Regions from separate parts of the Homo sapiens genome. Here region 2 is linked to region 1. The links come from fine-mapping of genetic effects on plasma protein levels. A gene starts in region 1. The other region holds a variant in brackets. All regions are shown on one strand. Distances are from middle to middle. Region 1 holds the start of COCH (cochlin). Region 2 overlaps SCFD1 (sec1 family domain containing 1).

The links. PIP is the chance, under the fine-mapping model, that this variant and not a neighbour inherited with it causes the effect. Sun 2018 read protein levels with aptamers (SomaScan).
Region 2: its variant is fine-mapped to the plasma level of the COCH protein (Sun 2018, PIP 0.95).

Annotation. Positions count from the first base shown.
Region 1 is chr14:30,867,804-30,879,322 of GRCh38, reverse strand. COCH (cochlin) reads right to left here and starts at 4,764. Exons shown (of 12, transcript NM_004086.3): 1 at 4,732-4,764; 2 at 4,351-4,407; 3 at 4,220-4,267; 4 at 1,595-1,751; 5 at 379-512. The coding sequence starts at 4,384. COCH-AS1 (COCH antisense RNA 1) reads left to right here. Exons shown (of 5, transcript NR_038356.1): 5 at 2,771-3,144. RefSeq lists a silencer at 4,683-5,202.
Region 2 is chr14:30,623,502-30,634,704 of GRCh38, reverse strand. It overlaps SCFD1 (sec1 family domain containing 1), which reads right to left. Exons shown (of 25, transcript NM_016106.4): 2 at 6,426-6,496; 3 at 4,140-4,228; 4 at 668-758. Among named protein-coding and RNA genes, the nearest start is that of SCFD1, 6.8 kb to the right of the region's middle. The variant T/C (reference allele first, on the strand shown) is at 6,654.

The DNA.
Region 1 (11,519 bases):
AATGGTGATTGTAGTTACAAACATCCTGCTGCATGCTAGTTTCAGAGAACCAAAATGCTTATCCATTATATCTTCAAAGGATCATCAAAAATGTATTTAGTAGTTTTTCAGTTCCTTGGTAAGTGTCCGGGCATTCTGACTGCAAATAATTCAAGTTTCTATTGCCATCATCTGTCAGTAAGATTGTCTTCTATTCACCCAAATTTGGCTTCAGTGGGTACTTGACCCCTCAGTCTAACCTACAGTTTACCTCTATAGGTCAGCTTTAGTCTTGATCACAGGTTTTTCCATCAAGGTTAAAGAGGCTGAGCTAAAAAAAGCAGAAAACGTTTGGGGGGTGGGAGAATATTACAGAATGAGAACAATAATTATACCTACTAGTTACTGTGAAAGAAGCAGACCATCTAGAAAGCATTTGAGACTGGATGCCATTGGCATCTACTGAGGAATAGTTTTCTCGACCAGGTAGGCTATAGACTCGTACAGGTCCCCCTGAGTTGCTGATTACTCCCCTGTAACACAAGAATAGCAGCTGAGATGCTATCCACACTTTTTCAGGGCATCCCACTGACTTATAGTGCCATGTTGTATCTATTGCTTTGATTAATCAAGAAAATAGCTCATCAGGGAAGTCATCTAAAGATTCTGCTTTATTTATTTATTTATTTGATGGCGTCTCGCTCTGTAGCCCAGGATGGAGTGCAGTGGCGCGATCTCGGCTCACTGCAACCTCCACCTCCAGGATTCAAGTGATTCTCCTGCCTCAGCCTCCCAAGTAGCTGGGATTACAGGCATGCACCACCATACCTGGCTAATTTTTGTATTTTTAGTAGAGACAGGGTTTCACCATGTTGGCTAGGTCTCGAACTCCTGACCTCAAGTGGTCCATCCGCCTCAGCCTCCCAAAGTGGTGGGATTACAGGTGTGAGCCACCACTCCCAGCTGCTGCTAGCCTTTTAAAAACTTGCTTACACAAGAACAAAATTTGCCTGGAAAAAAATGGTTTTGTGCTGTTGAACTTCTTAAGTGTTGATAAGAACACATTTGTAATATCCCATTACCCACAACTTAGAAATTCAGAGCACCAAACAATTTTCCTAAGATACTCACTTTAGCTACATGCCTTTGGACTGAATTTTTTTAGAAGTATTATACTGGCTATTCTACTACAGGATAGCATGGCACTTGCTAACAATAGTCACCTTGGGCAAGATACTTGACAACTCTCTGAGTTCAGTTTCTTCATCTGTAACTGGAGTAAAATTCTACCTACCTTGTAGAGTTGTGGTGGAAGTTAAAACAATAGGTGGCACATAGTAATAACTCAGTAATATATCACATGATTAGGAATGTTTTGGAATCATAGCAATCTAGCCATCAAGAGGTAATGCTATTTGCCTTTTGTCAGAAAGCTTTCCATGTGTATTTGGTGTTTCAAGTATATCCAGGAGAACCGTGAAAATATATCCATTTTCTGTGGCCACAATGGCAACAAAAGAAAGAATGCAGGGAGGAAAGGGATCCAGATGGGTAAAGCAGGAAAGGAAATAATCACGTCTGCATTTCTCTCCCACCCTGGTGTGTTTGGGCTTACCTGTGGACAGCAGCCCCACATATGCTCGATACAGAAGCATATACTATGTTCCCATACACAGAGAATTCCTCAAGAGGGCAGCCCCCTGGGCAGAGGACATCTGCTTTCTCTTTCCTGATGTCCAAGCCTCTGGTAAAACATGTGATAGCAATGGGAGCTGAAGAAAAAGGAGATAATATTGTAAGCATTCTTAGGACTTCTTGGGGCATAGTGGTGGGGAGACTACAGTGTGAGATTTAAGTTTTACTTCCCTAATTTCTACACTTCTAGTTATGACTATTGACTTATATACCCTTCCATACCATTCCAGATTTTGGCAAGCCACAAGGTTGTTTTCCAATTTAATATAGTCCCCAGCCACTATAAAACTCTAATGTGAAAGTTCTGGGTTTTTATTTCGTTTTTGTTTTTGAAATGGGGACTCGCCAAGTTGCCCAAGCTAGGCTCAAATTCCCGAGCTCAAGTGATCCACCTCCAACTCCCTAGTAGCTGGGATTACAGGTGTGCCACTGTGCCTGGCTTCTCAGTTCTTAACCAGGTTGGAAATACATAATTGGAACTATATCTGAACTAGAAAATAAAAGTCATTTAATATTAATTATAGAAATATAAAAAATCTTGGCTGGGCGTGGTGACTCATGCCTATAATCCCAGCACTTTAGCAGGCCAAGACAAGAGGATTTGCTTGAGTCCAGGAGGTCAAGACCAGTCTGGACAACATAGCAAGACCTCATCTCTTCTAAAAAAAAAAAATTTTTTTTAAATGGCCACACGTGGTGGTGCATGCCTGTACTCTCCGCCACTGGAGAGGCTGAGGTGGGAGGATTGCTTGAGCCCGGGAGTTCAAGCTTGCAATGAGCTATGATTGCATCACTGCACTCCATCCTGGGTTACAGAATAAGATCTTGTCTCCAGAAGAAAAAAAAAAATTTTTAAATCTCAACTTTGATGACGCTATGTACACAGTTGCTTGAGGTAAAGATAGTAAATCTGGATTGAGCCTTTGTGGAACATTTTCATAGACATGTGCACAAATCAAAGCCATCCTTTCCTTCATAGGACCATTTATCCTAGTTAGCCTACAAATGCAGATCCTTAAACTCACACATTAAGGAAGCCAACAAAAAGATGCTTAGATTCACAGAAAGTTATCTAACTTGATTGTTCATTTTATAGATGAGAAAATTAAAGCCGTGGGGTTAATTTGCCCAAACAACATTCTACAACTCCCGAAGGACAGAAAACAGAAAAGTGAATCCCTTCAGAATACAGCATTTTTATCTTAATTGAACCTGATTATTTCTGCTCCAGATCTGTCCAGTGAGATTTATCAAGCAGCGGATGCATTTTTAGAAAGCACTGTTAATATTCTCAAGTTTTACACTGTCAACCTAACAAAGAATCAGTTTTTACTATAAATGATGCTAGGAAGAGACAAGCTCTTGGCAACAAGTAACAAGATAACATAATACAACATGTTAATTTGTGAATTTACTGTCGATACTAAATTGAGATTAATGTTATTAAATGCTATTTTTCAAACATGGGAAGTTGTAGTTATCCAAACCTTTTTAAAACATATATTAATTTTAAAAACCTTTTTTTTCCAAGGCAGAGGAATACTTTCTGGCCATACTGTCCAACTGAGTACCTTGCCTGTGACAAGCACCCTCCTCTGTGCCCTTTGTGGTGACAGGTACCTTACATTCCATGGAAGAGAAGGAAGGATGCAGGCGCAATGCCCATTTCTTAGCTCTGAAGCAGTCTAGAGAGCTGAGAGGTTAAAATCCTTACCCCTAAACAGCCTCATACCTATCATCAAACAGCCTTAATCCTTCCTCCCATTTTCCGCTGAGATGGGGGCGGCATCGGAATCCGGTGCCAAGACCGACCGCCTTTAGTTGCGAACACTGACTTTTGTTAAGTAGAGCGGGAGAAATACAGCCATGAGGGATACTTAACCCTCATTCCTACTTTCAAGGAAAACAAACGGTAGCTCTTAGGAAAGCGTTGCCTTTTACACTGGAAAATACACCAAACCACACACCCATACCCGGACCTCTACACGTGGTACAAACTTTTTAAACTCTCTAGCGTGTAGAGTGAGACCGCGAGTGCTTCTGATTATAGGGGTTACACCTAGAAACATAGCTAGCGAGTCAAACAAGGTGGGACAGCGACGTTCGCCTCCCTCTCTCTCGGCTACGGCAACCTGAAGTCGGGTCTGGGCGGCTTCTCCTCCACCCCCAAACGCAGCAGAGCCCAGGACTGGTGCGCTCCTCGGTGAGGCTCAAGGAGTCCTCCTTCCTCGACCTCCTGCTGCCGGCGCTCAGCGGGCCCGGGGTCTGGGGCTGTGGGTGGGCCTGGAGGAGGCCTTCTTCCTAGTGCTCTTGGAGAACGTCCCCCCACTGGACCCCAGGGGCCCCCTACCATGGGAGAAACAGGTGAGCAGGAGCAGATCGGCTGCAGGGGTTAACGCGGGCGCGCCACGCGGCGGCTCAACCTTCGCGCCTTCCTCCTCAGGCGGTAGGGCTGAAGCCCAAGGGGCTGGATCTGAGTCCCGCTTGTACCCGCTGGTGCTCAGCCCCTGCGACCGCCTGGACGCACCCCAGCTCCCCCACTCACCGGCTCCCTCGCTGCCCGCGGGCCCCGGCAGCAGCAGCAGACACACACCTGCGAAGAGAGAAGCGTGAGGGCTGGCTCCAGCCTCCACCCAGCGGAGCAAGGGGCCGGGGTCGTGAGGGGCGCGCACCCACCGAGGCCGAGAGCCGGGATCCAGGCTGCGGACATGGTGACTGATAGGCTGCTCACACCTGGGAGAGAGGGAGAATGCGGGCAAGGCCAGGGTGCGGGAGGCCCCGCGCGTCACCTCCTCAGAGCCCCGCACCCTTCGGATCCCCGGGCGCGGCGCAGAGGAGAGAGGACACAGACGACCCGCTGCTCCAGGCCAGCGCCCCTCTAGGTCTGGGAGGCGCCTCGGCGGCAAATCGAGCGAAGCCCAGGATCGGTGTGCAACCCCGCACCGCGGGGAGGCGGGGGCGCCAAAACGACGACAGACAGGCTGGGAGCGACAAAGAAACAGGGACAGAGGCGTCAGGGATCCCTCGCACCCGCGCCCGCCGCCCGGGGCTCCGCACCTGCTCGAGATCCACCCGGCTGCGCCCGAGTGCGGAAGGCAAGGCCCCCGCGGCCGCTATAAAGGCTGGGCCGTGCGCATGAGCACTGTGCGGGGGGCGCGGGAGGAAGCGCGGGAGCCGGTCCCCCGGGGCCCGGCGGCGACTTCCAGCTCCGCCTTCGCCCCCTGCCGGCCCCGGGGTGAGGCCGGCGCGGAGGCGCCTCCTCCAGCAGCGCAGGCTCGGCCACCTGGACGCGGCGCCAGTCCCTAGAGGGGCACGAAGGTCCCCGTGCCGGCGTCTCAACGAGTGTGGAGGGCCGGCGGCCCCGACGGCGGCAGCAGCGGCCTCGCCAGCCCTGCTCTGCCGGGACCAGGGCTGCTGAGGCAGCGGCGGCCGCTACCCGCCCCACCCAGCGAGGCCTGGAGCTTCTGAGAGCTGTCAGGTCCACGCGGCCTGAGAACCGAACTTCTCAACTTGGTGCTCTCGTGGAAAGAGTTCCTACTTCTGAAATAAAACCACCCTAGGTTTGGTAAACGCATGCCGCGTTTTTGTTAGAAACCCTGTCAACTGACTGCTAGCTCGTTGGACCTTAGGGATTCGGCCTTGCGCCTTCGTTTCTGCTGGAGTCCTACTTTCCCCAGTGGTTCAATTTGTGCTCCTGCCTAGAGCCACGCGTGTGAGACAGCCCTGACCCCAGCAGCCGGTACCTTTGCTTCTTTCTCACCTCAGGAAGAATTTATGCCTGATTGCCTTTCGAAATTCCCAGACTTGGTGTCTTGTGACTGCACAGAATCTCAGATTTGATAATGTGTTCTCCTTCTCCCCGCACCATCCTGCTAACGTTTTACAAATGGAAATGGAGAAGGAGCAGAATTCTTGAGGAGTGTTAGTGACAGGCGACCTGCATGGCAGCGGAAGAACCAGACCCAGGCCCAGACGCTAACCTTTCTGGTACAATATAAACTTTTTCAAATAGCCTTATTTAGTTACAATTTACATGCCATAAAATCCATCCGTTTTGAGTGTACAGTTCAATGATGTTTAGTAAATTTTCAGAGCTGTACAACCATCACCACAAGCCAATTTCAGAACAGGTTCATCCTCCCCAAAATGATCTCCTCGCCATTGTCAGTCAGTCTCTTCTCCCACTCCTAGTCCTAGGCAATCACTAACCTATTTCCTGTCTCTATAGATTTTTCTTAGTGGTCGTTTCTTATAGATGGGATTATACATTGTGCGGCTTCCTTCACTGCACAGAATGTTTTTGAGGTTCATCCATGAGGCATTATAGAACAGTACTTCCTTTCTTTTTATTGTTGAAAAGTATTCCCATGCCATTTTATACTGAGAAACAAATACACCACCATCACCTGGAAGTCAACTAGTGTAGTAGTCTTAATTACAACTATCTTCCTGATTGGAATGACTTAGTATTTGTATCAGGCAACTAAGGAGTGTTGATTTCATTCCCTTTACTACCTGAATGTCTTCTGGAGGGAAAGAGACCAAATAACATTTGAGGGCTGGGAGGTTTTTGATGTTTATTTTCATGGCTGCTTTCAAGATTTACTCCCTTCCCTGGTATAGAGAATTACCCTTTTCTTAGAAATCCAGTAATCTAGCCACTGCCCCTGATATTTTCCATGGGAGAAATTTCAAGCCTCAGGACAATTAAAGCTGTCTTTTCCATTATTGTTTATTGAGTGTCCTCAATCAGGGTTGGATAACCTCCCCTAATTAGGCTGGACAAATTGTCATGATGCTATATAATTAGGAAGAGTCTGTACGCTGGAAAAAACCTGCCACTTCACAGCTCAGCAGGCAGGTCCCAAATGGCCAAAGGGGTAGATGCTATTCAGAGCCCCCACAGGGCACTGGCAGCCCTCCTGTGATGTAATTTCAGTGAGTGATTTGGCAGAGTCAAAACTATGCAGCTATTTCCATGACAGACCCTGAGTCTGTAACCATTAAAAAATAAAGGAAATACCTCACTGAATTTCATGGTTGTTTACTGAGATTCATCTTAATTATTTTGTTTTGAAACATTTAAGAGAAGTTACTCTGTCTTTACTATTTTTTTCTTTTTGGTAAGGCCAACCAAGGAGAGTGGAAGAGTGGGGTTTAGACTCTCATTCTTAGCTAGTTTGTAGTTCATGCTCACCATAAGTATATTAAAGAAAAATATCTGAATTTAAGAGGTAATTGCCTCTGCTTTGGAAATATCTGAAGAGAGTCAAATCTAGGTATATTTGACTTAAAAAGACAAATTGTTAAAATGACAGAGTTTTGTATTCAGTTGGGTGATATTTTAGGGTAATCGTACTCCTAGGATGCCTGGTTAATCCTGCTTTATTATTTTTTTAAATATTTTATTTTATTTTATTTTATTTGAGATGGAGTTTTGCTCTTGTCTCCCAGGCTGGGGTGCAATGGCGCTATCTCGGCTCACTCCTACCTCTGCCTCCCAGGTTCAAGCAATTCTCGTGCCTCAGCCTCCTCCTGAGTAGCTGGGATTACAGGCACGTGCCACCACAACTGGCTAATTTTGTATTTTTAGTAGAGATGGGGTTTCACTATGTTGGCAAGGCTGGTCTCCAACTCCTGACCTCAGGTGATCCACCTGCCTTGGCCTCCCAAAGTGCTGGGATTACAGGCGTGAGGCCCGGCCTCATTATTTGTTAATTTTTAATTTAATTTAATCTTATTATATTGTTATTAATTACTATTATTAGAGACTTATTCTCACTCTGTCATCCAGGCTGGAGTGTAGTGGCACAATCAAAGCTCACTGCGGCCTCAAACTCCTATGTTCAAGAGATCCTCCCACCTCACCCTCCTGAGTAGCTGGGTCTACAGGTACACACCACTATGACTGGCTCATTTTTTACTTTTTGTAGAGAGGTAGTCTCATTATTTGCCCAGGCTGATTTCAAACTCCTCACCTCACGTGATCCTCCCGCCTGGGCCTCCCCAAATGTGGGGATTATAGGCATGAGCCACTGCGCCTGATTTTATCCTACTTTAGTGGGAAGTATTTGATATTCAAAATTTAGATGAACTCCGTGTAGAGCAGTGGATTCCTGTCTGGGCTGCACGTTGGAACTACCTGGAGAGCTTTAAAAATACTCATGCCTGGGTCCCACCCCAGAGATTTTAATATAATTGGTCTGGGCTGGGGCCAGGGCATTAGAATTTTTAAAAGCTCTCCAGGTGATTCTAATGTGCAGTCCAGGTGCTCAGTGTTAGAGGTTAAGCTAATTCTGCTAATCTTTCATTCTTCTTTCATTATCTTTTCGTTAAAATCCAACTTTAATATGCCTACTGCATTCCCCTGATAAAAAATGGAAGCATTTTCTGGCCTGATGGTTGTTTAAAAACAATCCCTAACAAAAAGATTGAAAACTCAATTTCAAAAGTAATTTTCCCTGGGAATGCTGCACAGTCACATTTCTGACTTTGTGCAGAATGCGCTGGCATTGTTAGGGAAATAAGCTGCCTCTAACACTGATACCTGGGTGGCATTGTCAGGCTTCAGGATGCTGCTGATGGCCCTAAAAGAGTTTCTCAAGGATGGCATAGTTACCTGATGGGATTTGGCTTGTGCTTACACAGATAAAACTCTTAGTTTATATAGGCTCTGTCTCTGTTCCGTTGTTACCTAGGTATGAATCTGCCCCTGAAGTTTTCATATTTTTGTTGTTGGTCTTTTTTTACTTTATTTTACCTTTTAAAGGAGTATCCAGTCCTGTTCTATCCTCTATACCATTTAAGCTCCCCGGTAAACTTTTACTTAGCCAATGTAATGCATAGCAACACGGTTTTATTTCGATTATGGTGGCCTCAAAGCAGCTGTCCCCAACCTTTTTGGCACCAGGAACTGGTTCCATGGATGATAATTTTTCCACGGGGTTGGTTGGTGGGGGGCGGATGGTTTTGAGATGAAACTGTTCCACTTCAGATTATCAGGCATTAGATTCTCATAAAGAATGTGCAACCTAGATCCCTCGCATGTGCAGTTTACAACAGGGCTCGAGCTCCTGTGAGAATCTAATGCCACTGCTGATCTGACAGGAGGCAGTAATGCTCACTCGCCCATTCACTGCTCACCTCCTGCTGTGCTGCCCAGTTGCCAACAGGCCACAGACTGGTACCCACCTGCGGTTGGGGAGTTGGGAACCCCTGCCTTAAAGTGAGTTTGTTCAGTTTTAGGAAGTGTATGTTTATCCTGCAGTATCCTTTAAGTTTCTATGATAGATTATAGAGCAGAAGCAGCTTGGGAACTCTTATCACCTATATTATTAAACCCACATTGATGTTTATTCTATATCTAGTTTTTCTGATTCTTTTCTGTTGTTCACATCTTATGCTAAGCAAGTATATTTATCTAGCCTTTCCATTTTTGATGATGTCTAGCAGGAGAATAAATGTCTACAGCCTCAGAGGAGTGAAAATTAAAAAGTTGATTCAGAGATATCCCTGTGACTATGAGATCTCAGTTTCCTCTCCTATAAAGTGAAGGGGATTAGACCAGCGATTGGAAGAGACTTTCCTCTGGTCACATTCTGTGACTGGCAAGTGCTCCCTGGGTATATATAGGCTCTGGGGGCTGTGCTGTCTTCCAGGGTTTGGGAGGCATTAGGAAACACTGGCTGTGCCAGCTGGCTCCCAGCTGTCCCAGGACTTATCCTTTCTTACTCAAAGTCTCTTTTTATTCACCTCTCACTGCTAAACTATGGCCTGGCTCATGTTTGTCCCTTATTTAACAAGAAGTAATGAGGTCACATTTTCACTGGAGTGCCACTAGGACTTCCTTCCTAAGAGAGGAAGCTGTGATGGGAAACATAAATCAGTTCTGCAAGGCTTGGCATTTATCTCATGTAAACTCATCAGAGGCAAGGATCTTTCTACCTTTTGTTCATTGCTGCACGCCTACTCCCAACAAAACTGTCTAGCACACTATATGTACTCAAGAAATACTTGTTAGATGAATGAATCAATCTCATTCTGTCTTGACATTTGCTACCTTATATTGATTTTTTAAAGATTTTTATTTTAGAAGTTTTATGTTTACAGAAAAATTAATAAGATAGTACAGTTTCCAAACCTAGTTCCCCATTATTAACATCTTATACTAGTATTGTACAGTTGTCACAATTAACAAACCAATACTGATACATTATCATTAAGTGAAGTCCATATTTTATTCAGATTTCCTTTTTTTTTTCTTTTTTTTTTTTTGAGATGGAGTCTTGCTCTGTCACCCAGGCTGGAGTGCAGTGGTGCGATCTTGGCTCAATGCAACCTCCACCTCTCAGGTTCAAGCAATTCTCCTGCCTCAGCCTCCTGAATAGCTGGGATTACAGGCATGCACCACCACACCCAACTATTTTTTTTTTTTTTTTTGTATTTTTAGTAAAGACAGGGTTTCACCATGTTGGCCACGCTGGTCTCGCACTCCTGACCTCAGGTAATCCGCCTACCTCGGCCTCCTAAAATGCTGGGATTATAGGCGTGAGGCACTGTGCCTGCCCGATTTCCTTATTTTTCACCTAATATCTTTTCTCTGTTCCAGAATCTCATCCAGGATACCATATTATATTCAGTCATCGTGTCTCATTAGGCTCCTCTTAGCTGTGACACTTTCTCAGATTTTCCTTGTTTTTGATGACCTTCACAGTTTTGTGGAGTACTGGTCTGCTGTTTCGTAGAATGTTCTTCAATTGGGATTTGCCTGATGTTTTTCTCATTATTAGACCAGGGTTATTGTTTTTAGGAGAAAGACCACAGAGGTAAAATGACATTCTTGTCACACCATGTCAAGGGTATATACTATTGACATGACTTATTACTGTTTTTTGTTTGTTTGTTGAGATAGAGTCTCATCTGTCGCCCAGGTGGAGAACAGTGGTACAATCTCAGCTCAATGCAGCCTCGACCTTCTGGGCTCGAGCAGTCCTCCAACCTCAGCCCCACAAGTAGCTAGGACTCAGGCGCATGCCACTACCCCCAGCTAATTTTTCTGTATTTATTTTATAGAGACAGGGTTTTTGCCATGCTGCTCAAGCTGGTCTCAAACTCCTGGGCTCAAGCAATCCTCCTGCCTTGGCCTCCCAAAGTGCTAGGATTACAGGTGTAACCCATCACACCTGGCCAAGTTAAGGGCTTAAGAAGCTTACCCTTAAGGAGTGGAGAATTATGTTCAACTCCTTTGAGAACAGAATATCCATAAACTATTGAGAATTCTGGCCAGGTGTGGTGGCTCACACCTGTAATCCCAGCACTTTGAGAGGCCTAGATGAGAGGATCGCTTGGGCTCAGGAGACTGAGACCAGCCTCGGCAACAAAATGAGACTGTGTCTCACATTTTTACAATTTTTTTTGGTCAAAAAATTTAAAAAATTAGCAAGGCATGGTGGTGTGTGCCTTTGGTCCCTGCTACATGGGGGGCTGAGGGAGGAGGATTGCTTGAGCCCAGGAGGTCAAGGCTGCAGTGAGCCATAATCGCACCACTGCACTCCAGTCTGGGGGACAGGAAGACCCTGTCTCAAAAAAAAAAAAAAAAAATTATAGAGAATTCTTCTGCATGGGAGATTTGTCCCTTCTCCCTTGTTTATTTACCATTGGTTTTTTATTTGTGGCTAAAAATAAAAGGCTATAAGCTCTTTGAAGGTAGAAACTATTCCATATGTTCCTCTATACTCCCAATAACTTGCACAATGCTTTAGGGTACAGAGTAGCTAGATGCTCAGTTACTGAAATAGAGGACAGTCTACCACCTTCCAGTCCTGGGGTTTTCTGCTGATGGCTTA
Region 2 (11,203 bases), 240 kb after region 1:
TATAGTACTTCTGCACCAGTGTGGACTTCCTAATCTCACCCTTATTTTAGAAAAGGAAAACCCTATATAAGTTAGAAAGGCAATATACCTAGGCTTTCTGTTTGTTAAAGCCAGACTCAGACTTTACCAGTACAGTGGTTGCCCTTATTTGCAGGGGTTATTTTCCAAGACTCCAGTGGATGCCTGAAACCAGGTAGTACTGAACCGTATATGTTTTTTCCTATACATACATATTTATGATAAAACTTAATTTATAATTTATAAATTGGGCACGGTAAATGATTAGCAACAATAGCTAGAAATAAAATAGAGCAATTATAAAATATATTCTGTAATGAAATATATTACAGAAAATATATTCTGTAATGAAAGTTATATGAATGTGGTCTCTCAAAATACTGTAATATATTCAGTACCTGGTTAACTGTGGATAACTGAAACTGTGGAAAGTGAAACTGTGGACATGAGAGGACTACTGTATAATACTTCTTCAGCCAAAAGTTTTAAGTCTTTCAGGCTATTTGGAATTCAAAGATAGTCTCAAAAATCAGAGTGAGAAAGTAGGCATAGGAATTTCTGATTTTTCACCCTGGACATCTAGGAATTTTTCTTGAAAAAAAAATCCATTTCCAAATTCAGGAGTCCAGAAAATAAGAACCCATATTACCTGGCACATTCTGTCAATATTTTCTTCAGTTGGCATTACAAAGTATACTGCAGGAACATCTGGAATAGGATCTCGATCAGAGTGTAAAAGCCTAGAAGACATAAGGAACTAAAACTTATTTTTTTATTCACTTATTTAAAACAATATTCCTCAAAATGGGAGTTCACTAGCTCAAGGACAGTAACCAGTGCTCTAAAAGCTCTTGTTGCAATTAATCAGTGAGTTAACCTATCTTTCTCCCATGTCAGTGTTGTTATTATTTATTAGCATTAGTAAGACCCTAATTTCTTGTTAGTCTTCATTTGTTCTATTCTGCTCACACTTTTAGCACTGCTTATGGTCAGACATTCTTTTCTACCAACACTCTCCTTGAATGAGAACTAAAACATATTCAGAATCAATCTTATTCCCACTTTTCATAGAAATGTGGTGGTCAGAGGGGAAGGGTGAATGTGAGGAAAGTGTGGCTCTCTGAGGGGAAAATCAGAAAGCTAGGGGACGCAATGAAAAAAATTTTAGAAGCAATTCTTTAGAAGCTATAAAAAAATTTAACCAAACATGAAATCAAATATATTTTTTAAATGAAAGGTATATAAATGTTTCCTTAAAAATTAAAGACAATCTATTTTTGTCTATTTATTGTTTCATAAGAGAATGTAAGCATCTTATAGATTAAGTCATTTTACAGTTTTCTCCTTTTACAATTTAGGAACAATTTCCATACAAATATCCCAACATCAAACCATGCTTATATGAGGAATATTCACCTCTCTCTAGTCATCCTTCTATAATCAAGGAGAGAGAGGAAAGAGGCACATGCTGCCAGTGAGTCTGTGTTTAATAACTGTTGCCACTGATATCAAGAATGATAATGTGATGGCTGCCATAGGTTGTGGTCTTTTTCACACTGCTTGTCCAACTGTCTAATGGGCTACAACCACCATTTCATACTGTGGAAACTTGTAATTACTGTTTCCTACAAATTAGCCTAAACCAGCTTGCAGGGTATAAAGTAACTGATACAGTATTCTCCAGCAAATAGAGGAGAATGGTTGGAGGCAAAGTACACAAGAGTTCACCATGGTAGCTGTGTAATATTTCCATGCTCTGGTGGCAAGTAGCAAGTTAGGCAGAGATTACGAGACTCTCAAACTGGTAGACTATCCTATTACCCCTGAATGAAGTACTGAGTAAGGCCTCACTTCTGTTAGTTACTGTTACTGAGCCATTACAGTTCAGTAGATAAACAGCACAGAATTAGTGGTCAAGCAATGTGGCCATGGCTCTGTTATTAACTGGTTGTACAAATGTGAGACAATCACTTAAGCCTTCTAAACTTCAGTCCTTCCATTAGTAAATAAAGGAGTTAAACACTTAGTACAGAGACAATGGCACTCAATGTTTATTAATAAACCACAATTTCCAAGGATAGCATGAAGTTAAACTTTACTTCAGTCCATAAAAATTAACACATTATCAAAGCAAACCTGCTTATTTCAGTCTGACATAAAAATGAAAGGAAAACTCATCAAATACCGTATTTCATGAAACCCAAGGTGGTAACAATTTTAAAACATAATTTTTAAAATATATTTTATATACTACTGAGAAATAAAAATGCTGCCAGTTATGACATATCATCAGTGATAAGATAGATCCTAATTTCAGAAATGTAAAAAAGGACATTTGGAATTGACAAACTATAACAGTCTATTAACAAATGCTCATTATACAACTGAAGAATTTGAGCTGATTAAACCAGATTCTGTCAAGTTACTTATCGAAAATCTAAAACTATATTCCCAGTAAGAGTACATTTCAATTCAATATATGATATCATAAAAATTGGTTATAACATCATAAATAGAACAAAATGCAAATAGCTTAGAACACCATAAAATTGGACTCTTTTAGTATACAGAAGTATTAGTATCTATCCATGAACACAGTCCTTCTCCAAACGTTCTTTTTTTTTTTTTTTTTTTTTTTTTCAACAGAATCTTGCTCTGCTGCCCAGGCCAGAGTGTAGTGTCACGATCTCGGTTCACTACAACCTCTGCCTCCTGGGTTCAAGCAATTGTCCTTCCTCAGCCTCCCAAGTAGCTAGGATTACAGGTGGGTACGCCACCATGCCCAGCTAATTTTTGTACTTTTAGTAGAGACGGGGTTTCACCATGTTGGCCAGGCTGGTCTCGAACTCCTGACCTCAAGTGATCCGCCCACCCGGGCCTCCAGAAGTGCTAGGATTACTGGCATGAGCCACTGTGCCTGGCCCCTTCTCCAAATGTTCTACTAGGCAAGCCCATAAAGTACTGCATTTGTTTTATTTTTATTAAACATATCAGAAGCAATATAATCACACAAACTTAACAGTTAAGACAACACAGATAGCCCACTATGGTGATTAACAGTCATTACTTCATAGTCACTTAAATTTTTCATATTAATGATTAATTAGATATTCCTTTTTTTTAAAAAAATATAGACACTCCCTGACTTACAATGGTTCAACTTAGGATTTTTTGACTTTATGATGGTGCAAAAGCAGTGCATATTCAATAGAAATCATATTTTAAGCACCTATAAAAACATTCTGTTTTCAACTTTCAGCACTGCAGTCAATAAATTACGTGAGATATTCAACAGTTTATTTTTATTTTAATTAATTAATTTTTTTTAAATTTTGAGACAGAGTCTTGCTCTTTTGCCCAGGCTGGAGTGCAGTGGCACAGTCTCGGCTCACTGCAACCTCTGCCTCCCGGGTTCAAGTGATTCTCCTGCCTCAGCCTCAAGTAGCTGGGATTACAGGTGCCTGCCACCATGCCTGGCTAATTTTCTGTATTTTTTTTAGTGAAGATGGCGTTTCACCACGTGACCAGGCTGGTCTCGAACTCCTGACCTTGTGATTTGCCCGCCTTGGCCTCCCAAAGTACTGGGATTACAGGCGTGAGCCACCGTGCCCGGTTTTATTATAAAGGAGGCTATGTGTTAGATCTGACTCTGCCCAACTGTAGGCCAATGTAAGTATTCTGAGCATGCTGAGGGTAGGAGAGGCTAAGCTATGATGTTTGGTAGGTTAGGTGTATTAAATGCATTTTTTTGACTTACAAAATTTCAACTTATGATGGGTTTATAAGTATGTAACCCCATTGTAGGTCAAGGAGAATCTGTGTATTTAAATTAAAGGAACAAAACACTTTTAGAGCTGGAAGAGACCTTAAGATTACTAGTTCTTTTCCTTTACATAGAGGGTAAACCAAATCTAAGGAAAAGCCACAAGGCAGAAAATTTAAATTCTGAAATTATAAAGCCTCAGACTGAGGATTTTTTTAAATCCCAGAAATAAGGGGTTGAATAAAGAAGATACAGGGAAAAAATGTTCAATACTACATAAATACTGTAACCTAACACTATTTTTCTCTATAAATGTTCTTTAAATGAATACCACTATTAGAAATATGTAAAAACTCACAGATGCAGAGTGATTCCCATGTCTCTTAGCTCCTTCACAGATAGCAGAGGAGAGATTATATCTTGGCCAAATCTGTCATAAATGAGTACCTATTAAAAAAAACCATGTGTCATCATTATCAGTGAACAACCAATAGTGAACCTATATTAAGACAATGTTGAAGTAAATTTTATTTTAATACATCATATATACTGAATTGTTATCCTTGCCTCAATTTAACATTTTCCATCATTATCAGTGAACAACCAATAGTGAACCTATATTAAGACAATGTTGAAGTAAATTTTAATACATCATATATACTGAATTGTTATCCTTGCCTCAATTTAATATTTTCCATCATTATTTACCCAAATGTCCATCCAGGCAGTAATACGTTCTTAAAGCATTACTACTCAGGCTAAAATAAATAATTATATCAATTTCTTCTTATAAAATTCTTTTTTCTAGGTTTTAAAAAAATAGAGACTATAAAATCCTTAAGCTATCATAAACTTTGAACTTAAAGCCAATTCACGTTCATACCCTTATTTTTTTTCCAGTTCACATATATCTTTTCTAAAAACAGAGATGTAAAAATTAGCCATTTTCAAAACTAATATATAACAAGTTCCAGGACCACAATAAAAAATTTAGTATTTTAAGCATCTCAGGTTAAAAAGATACTCATTAAAAAAAATTAAGTCCCTGGCTGTGGCACAGTGGCTCACGCCTGTAATCTCAGCACTTTTGGAGGCCGAGGTGGGCGGATCACTAGGTCAAGAGATAGAGACCATCCTGGCCAACATGGTGAAACCCTTTCTCTACTAAAAATACAAAAATTAGCTGGGTGTGGTGGCACGTGCCTGTAATCCCAGCTACTCTGAAGGCTGAGGAAGGAGAATCACTTGAACTTGGGAGGCGGAGGCTGCAGTGAGCTGAGATTGCGCCACTACATTCCAGCCTGGCGACAAAGCGAGATTCCATCTCAAAAAAAAAAAAAAAAAAATTAAGTCCCTAAAGAGTATTTGATAGACTTAGTCTATCAAATACACTTCCTCACATTCTCAAAGTATTAAAACAGACAGCTTTGAGGTGTGGTAAGAACTCCAAATGGGCTTTTTAACTCAAAATTAGTTTCACGGTTAAGACAAATAAAAGAGATCCTCAACTGGTAAGCATTTTTCACAACTACCTCAATAATTATTTATGGAGTAAGAAATTGTTAATGAGAGAATGAAACATGTTGTTATGAAAACACATTTTCTTAAATGCCAGGATTTCCTTTAAAGAGGCTAAAAATCTTTCTGCTCTAGTTATAAAAGGTTCACGTTGCATCTTTCAAAAATCTTCCCTCTTTTAATCTCAATACATGTGTATTATTAATTTTAATGATATAAAAAGTGATGGGTAGGAAAAGTATCTGACAAAAATTTGTACCCAAGAAATTCTCAAACTATTTCAACCAAAAGCTCAATATTGGTCTTAGAAACAAGCAAGTATAGTTTATGCAAGAGGCAATAGGAAGATGCCCACAAAGGAACAAGAAGGAGAAAATTAGGGAATACTCTGGAGCTTAAACTATGAAATCAATACAGACAACTTTAACTACTTTTAGAGTTAACCCAAAGGACTTATAAAGACTCAAGAGAGTTTTCAAAACACCCTAAATTCTAAACATGTTGATTTGTTCTTAATTTTTAGCAAGAGAGAAATATAAAGAGACTGTTAACCAGTAAGTTTAAACCCAATCAACTGTATTATAACATCTGAAGAAAGAGAGTCTGCATGAAGTTTAAAATGAAGAAGCCTAAAGAATTGGAATTTTTAAAGGCTCTCCAGTATTTCTCAAAGGAAAAGATTGTAGATTGCTTTCTGGTTCAATTAAGTTTTATATCTCATAAATTATTAAAGTGGTATTACAGTTTACAGATCATTTTCTCATGAGTTTGTTAAAATAATCCAGGCCCTCTGAATGTGACTAACTCCGAGCAAGCTTATAAAATCCAAAGTCTGGACTTGAAAAGCTAAGGAACAAAATATCAACCAGGAAAAAGACCTATCAGTGACATCCTACCAAAGAGATCAACTGGACTCCCTAGATGAAAATTACTATTTTATCACTTGTCTCACTCCATAGAATGTCTGTCAAAACAATTCATATTAAGAGATCATGTTAAATAAGGATAAAACATTCATGATAACTAATATGTGTTACTTCTTCCATATTACAATAAATTCCCTCCAATTACCACCAATAAGGGCTGAGAAAAACAGAAATCAGTTCCCATTAAGATAAACTCTTACCTTCCATACTGGTTCTCCTGTGCTGTTTTTAATATGAGGCACATTGAAATTCAACATACGCTTCAAAGCCACTGAAAATAAAAAGTTTTATCAAATATTGTCATTGTTTTTTAGGATTTTATTTTTCCTCCATCATCATTCACTACCCCAAAGCAAAATAAACTAATCAACTCTAGTAAAACTGATTAACCAAATGACTATATGTGTAGAACTAGGGGTCAGATCTTG[T/C]AAGACTATTCCATCGACAGCTAATTGACATGTATTTGGGAGATTTCCCAAAACACAATAAGCATCTGTCCACAGATGAAATCGCGGGAAATGTTCAGGAAGAACTTGCAATGGCCTCAATATACTGATGCTGTTGCCTGTGTACTGTCTGGCTGAAAGCATAGATTAAGGTAAGTCTTTTTTTTTTTTTTTTTTAAGTCTGAGTGGTCTAGTGAGAAGGATCAGTCTGTCTGTCTGTTTTTTTTTTTAAGTGTGAGTGGCCTAGTGAGAAAGATCAGTCTTTCTTTTTTTTTTTTTTTTTTTTTTCTGAGACAGAGTTTCGCTCTTGTTGCCCAGGCTGGAGTGCAATGGCGTGATCTCGGCTCACCACAACCTCTGCCTCCCAGGTTCAAGCAGTTCTGCTTCAGCCTCCCGAGTAGCTGGGATTACAGGCATGCGCTGCCATGCCCGGCTAATTTTGTATTTCTAGTAGAGATGAGGTTTCTCCGTGTTGGTCAGGCTGGTCTAGAACTCCCGACCTCAGGTGATCCACCCGCCTTGGCCTCCCAAAGTGCTGGGATTACAGGCGTGAGCCACCACGCCCGGCCTGGATCAGTCTTTCTAAAAACAAAATTATCCATGGCATATTCAATTGGTTCATATACAAAACCTTCATACAGATCTGTCTATAGTTATGTAAGAGTATATTTTACAAACAATTTATCCTGTCAGATTCACCGAAAAGTTGCTTAAAATTCTATGTCCCTTGGGAAAACAGACTTTCCCATATAGTAGATAACTGATAATTCCAGCTAAGCAAATATACAACATCAAAAATCACAGTTACGGGTCTGTTACAGTATTTTGTGTTATTTATCACTCATCTGTAACAGTGTTACAGAAAATGAAAATCCCTTAATATACTTCTTCGTGAAACTGAGATGGCCAAATATTCAAGAGAGTATACTAGTTGTAATTTCTTGATTTAATTTTTATAAAATTGACAGCCTTAAAATCCACTTGGTTGATTGTTAAAAACATTTGCATCAGGCTTTAAGTAATACAGAATAACCTATACTCCAAAGTCCTACGAGAGAACTATGTAATACTAAAATCACCTGAATATCAACTTACAGCATATTCATTCACTCACAAGAAAAACTTCTATTAAATGCTTGCTTGCTGAGGTAGGTATAATGCTGTTAAAACTGCTATTACTGAACAGATTGTACTTCAGTGATACATTTGCATACTTATGTGTGTGTACATACTGTTGTGCCGAACCCTTATTGCCTCCAGTGGGGAAGATACCCATGTTTGAGAGGCCTAAGAAGAGACCCGGAGCCAGGAAATGAGACACAGGGTTTTAATGGGGGCAACACACATAGGAGAGTCCAGTGACAGTGGGCTGGACAGGAGAACTGTATACTCAGTGGCAATGCGCTGGGCAGGAGAACCATAACTGCATGCAAAAAGTGGTTTATATAGCAAAAATGTGGTTTATACAGCATTTTCACTTAACATTTCCCTAACAACCTCCACCTGGCAACCTTCATTCAACCCAAAACTCGGGGCCTTGATCCACTGCATGGCCTATGTTTCACTGGATGGGCTGGGGGCTCAGATGTTCCTCACAGACAAGGAATGAATCTCCAGGTGGGCCATTTTGATTCCCTAGCTTGAAACACATATCCAGGTGTGTCTGCAATACAGGGTCATTCTCAGGGCACGCTTAAGTTATTGCTATCAGGTGTATTTACCATACACCTACAGACATAATTTTTGGTAAAATGTTATTACCTAATGTCCAGCCAAAAATACACATTACCAATATTACCTACTTCAGAGGCCCACAGGTTTTACATTAAATAAAAATGTATTTTATTTAATGTATTTATAATATTAAATATATTTAATATAAACAAAAAAACAGTTTAACACTTAAAACTGAAATAACACAGGAAGCACGGAGGGGGTTTCAGGATTAACTCTCCCACTGTGCATTTGCAGAGCTCTTCCTCCACCTCCAGGCAATAAAGACACCACCACCCTGGCACTCACGCCCAAGAGGGAGGAAACCCTGTTTCTGGGAACAGCTGTTCACACTCTTGAAGCCTGACAACTTGGAAGAACGAAAGCCTGAGCTGCCATGTGAGCCTCAGGTGTTTAGTATGCTGCACAGTTAGGCCTTAGCTAACTGAAAGAGGCCAGCAGCAGCAAATAAGATAATCCTACATTCGCCTTCTCAGCCCAGTCTGAGATTTTCTCCAACTTTGAGCCTTGGCTAACTTATTAAAAGGTATTTTGATATACCTTTTACCTATATCAATATACCTATTGATATACCTATATACCTATATACCTATATACCTATACCTATATAGGTATACCTATATGCCTATATACCTATACCTATATAGGTATACCTATATGCCTATATACCTATACCTATATAGGTATACCTATACCTATAACAAAAAGGATTTGTTAATGGAGTACACGGCCTGTGTTCAGAGTTTACAAGAACGTAATTTTACTTTTATCAGAGTTTACCCAAGGCTTAAACCATGACTTTATCTGAAATGACAAACCATTTTTCTTATTGGCTCTAAATATACTACAGGTTGAGCATCCCAAGTCTTAATATCTGAAACCTGAAATGCTCCAAAATCAAAATTTTTTAAGCTGGTGCTCGGATTTTGAAATTTGGGATGCTCAACCAGTAATAATGCAAATATTCCAAAATCAAAAACACTCCTGGTCGCAAGCATTTTGGATAAGGGATACTCAACCTGTATCCATATTCCTAGACTTGGTTAATGTCATTACTTACATACACACTATTCATTCATTCAACACGTTTGATGAGTGCTCACCACAGGCACTGTAGTTATTGGGGATCTAGCAACTGAACAAAACAGTGAATAAAATCGCCTGTCCTCAAGTAGCTTTCATTCTAATTGGGGGATAAAAAAAATAAAATAAAAAAAAAGTAAAACATATGGTATGTAGATCATGGTAAGTGCTTTGAAGAAAGGTAAGATTGGGAAAGGGGAAGATGGAGTTGAGGTGTAATTTTAAACAGAATAATTGGGGAAAGCCTCCTGAGAAGGTAACATTTGAGTAAAGACCTAAAGGAAGTGAGGGAGTGAGCCATGGAGATTATCTCTGAAACAGTACTCCACAAAGAAGAAACAAATACAAAGGCTCGAAGGTGGGAGCATTCCTGGTGGGTTCAAGGAGAGGGAAGAGAAATAGGGAGTGAGGTCCAAAAGCTACATGGAAACCAGATCGTATAAAGCCTTGTAGAACACTGTAAGATCACTTTGGCTTTTATCATGGTTGAAATGGGAAGATGCTGGAAGATTTTGAGCAAACATATGGCATGATCAGTTTGGGTACTGTGTGAAAAATAATGAAGGAGAACAGGATTGTAAAAGCAAAGAGACCAAATAGGTTACTGCAGAAATTCATGGTGGACAGGACCTCGGAATAGCAATGACAACAGTCAGATCCTGGATGTATTTTCAGAGTAGAACTGACAAGATTTACTGAAAGATCTTACATGAGACATGAAAGAGACAAGTCAAGAAAACTTCAAGGTTTTTGACCTGAACAACTAAAAGGACGGAACTGCCATTAACTGATATGGAGTAGACTGAGTTCAGATGGGACGGCCAGACTAGGGATATAAACCTGGGAATCATCAACATACAGATAATACTGAAAGCTAAGGCGCTAGATGAGAACACTAATGGGACCCTGCAATGTTGAGAAGCTGGGAAGATGTGCAAGAACCTGTAACGAAGACGCATTCAATGAAGAACAACAGTAACACGGAGCAGGAGGCAACTGATTCTACCTATTGAACTGAAGGTATGGATAGAGGGGACAGTGAACCAGGAAGAAAGGAGATGGCTTGTGGGATGACCTTCAAAAGATCAATAAAGATTTTTCAGGAGACCAATAAAGATTTTTCAGGCAGGCAAAGCAAGAAACAGGCACGTTAGTTTACCTCTATCTTACTTTCCTCACCTGTAAAATGGAGATAATACATAATCACCTAATGCAATGCCTAACAATAGTAAATGCTCAATAAATGCCAACTATTATCTCATCCACCCAAATATTCTAGTATCTAGAATATTTAAGGACTGTGAGTTATCTCCCAAAACATTCTCCATAGGCATGAGGGAAATAGCTAATTCTGCATTATAATATATATACAAGGATTTACCTTCCTCTGAAAATAAGGCAGAATTCAATGACAGTAAAAATTTGATAAAAAATAGATCTAGCACTACCTAGTAATTCTGTAAAATCTTACTATGTTTATTTCTGCAGAAATACAAACGATTAGATTTTAATGATCTACAAAATTTCTGCATACAAGTTTACGGCCACGCAAATTTATTTTTCAAAAAGCTCTCTTGTATTGGTACAGTTTTACTGACACGTTATTTTAATATGTAGTATAGTCATCAGAAACACAGTATTAAAACAAATGGAGCTTCCATTTGTTTAAACATATACAACGAATGGCAGGTATGCCCCAAATCTTATTTGAACTT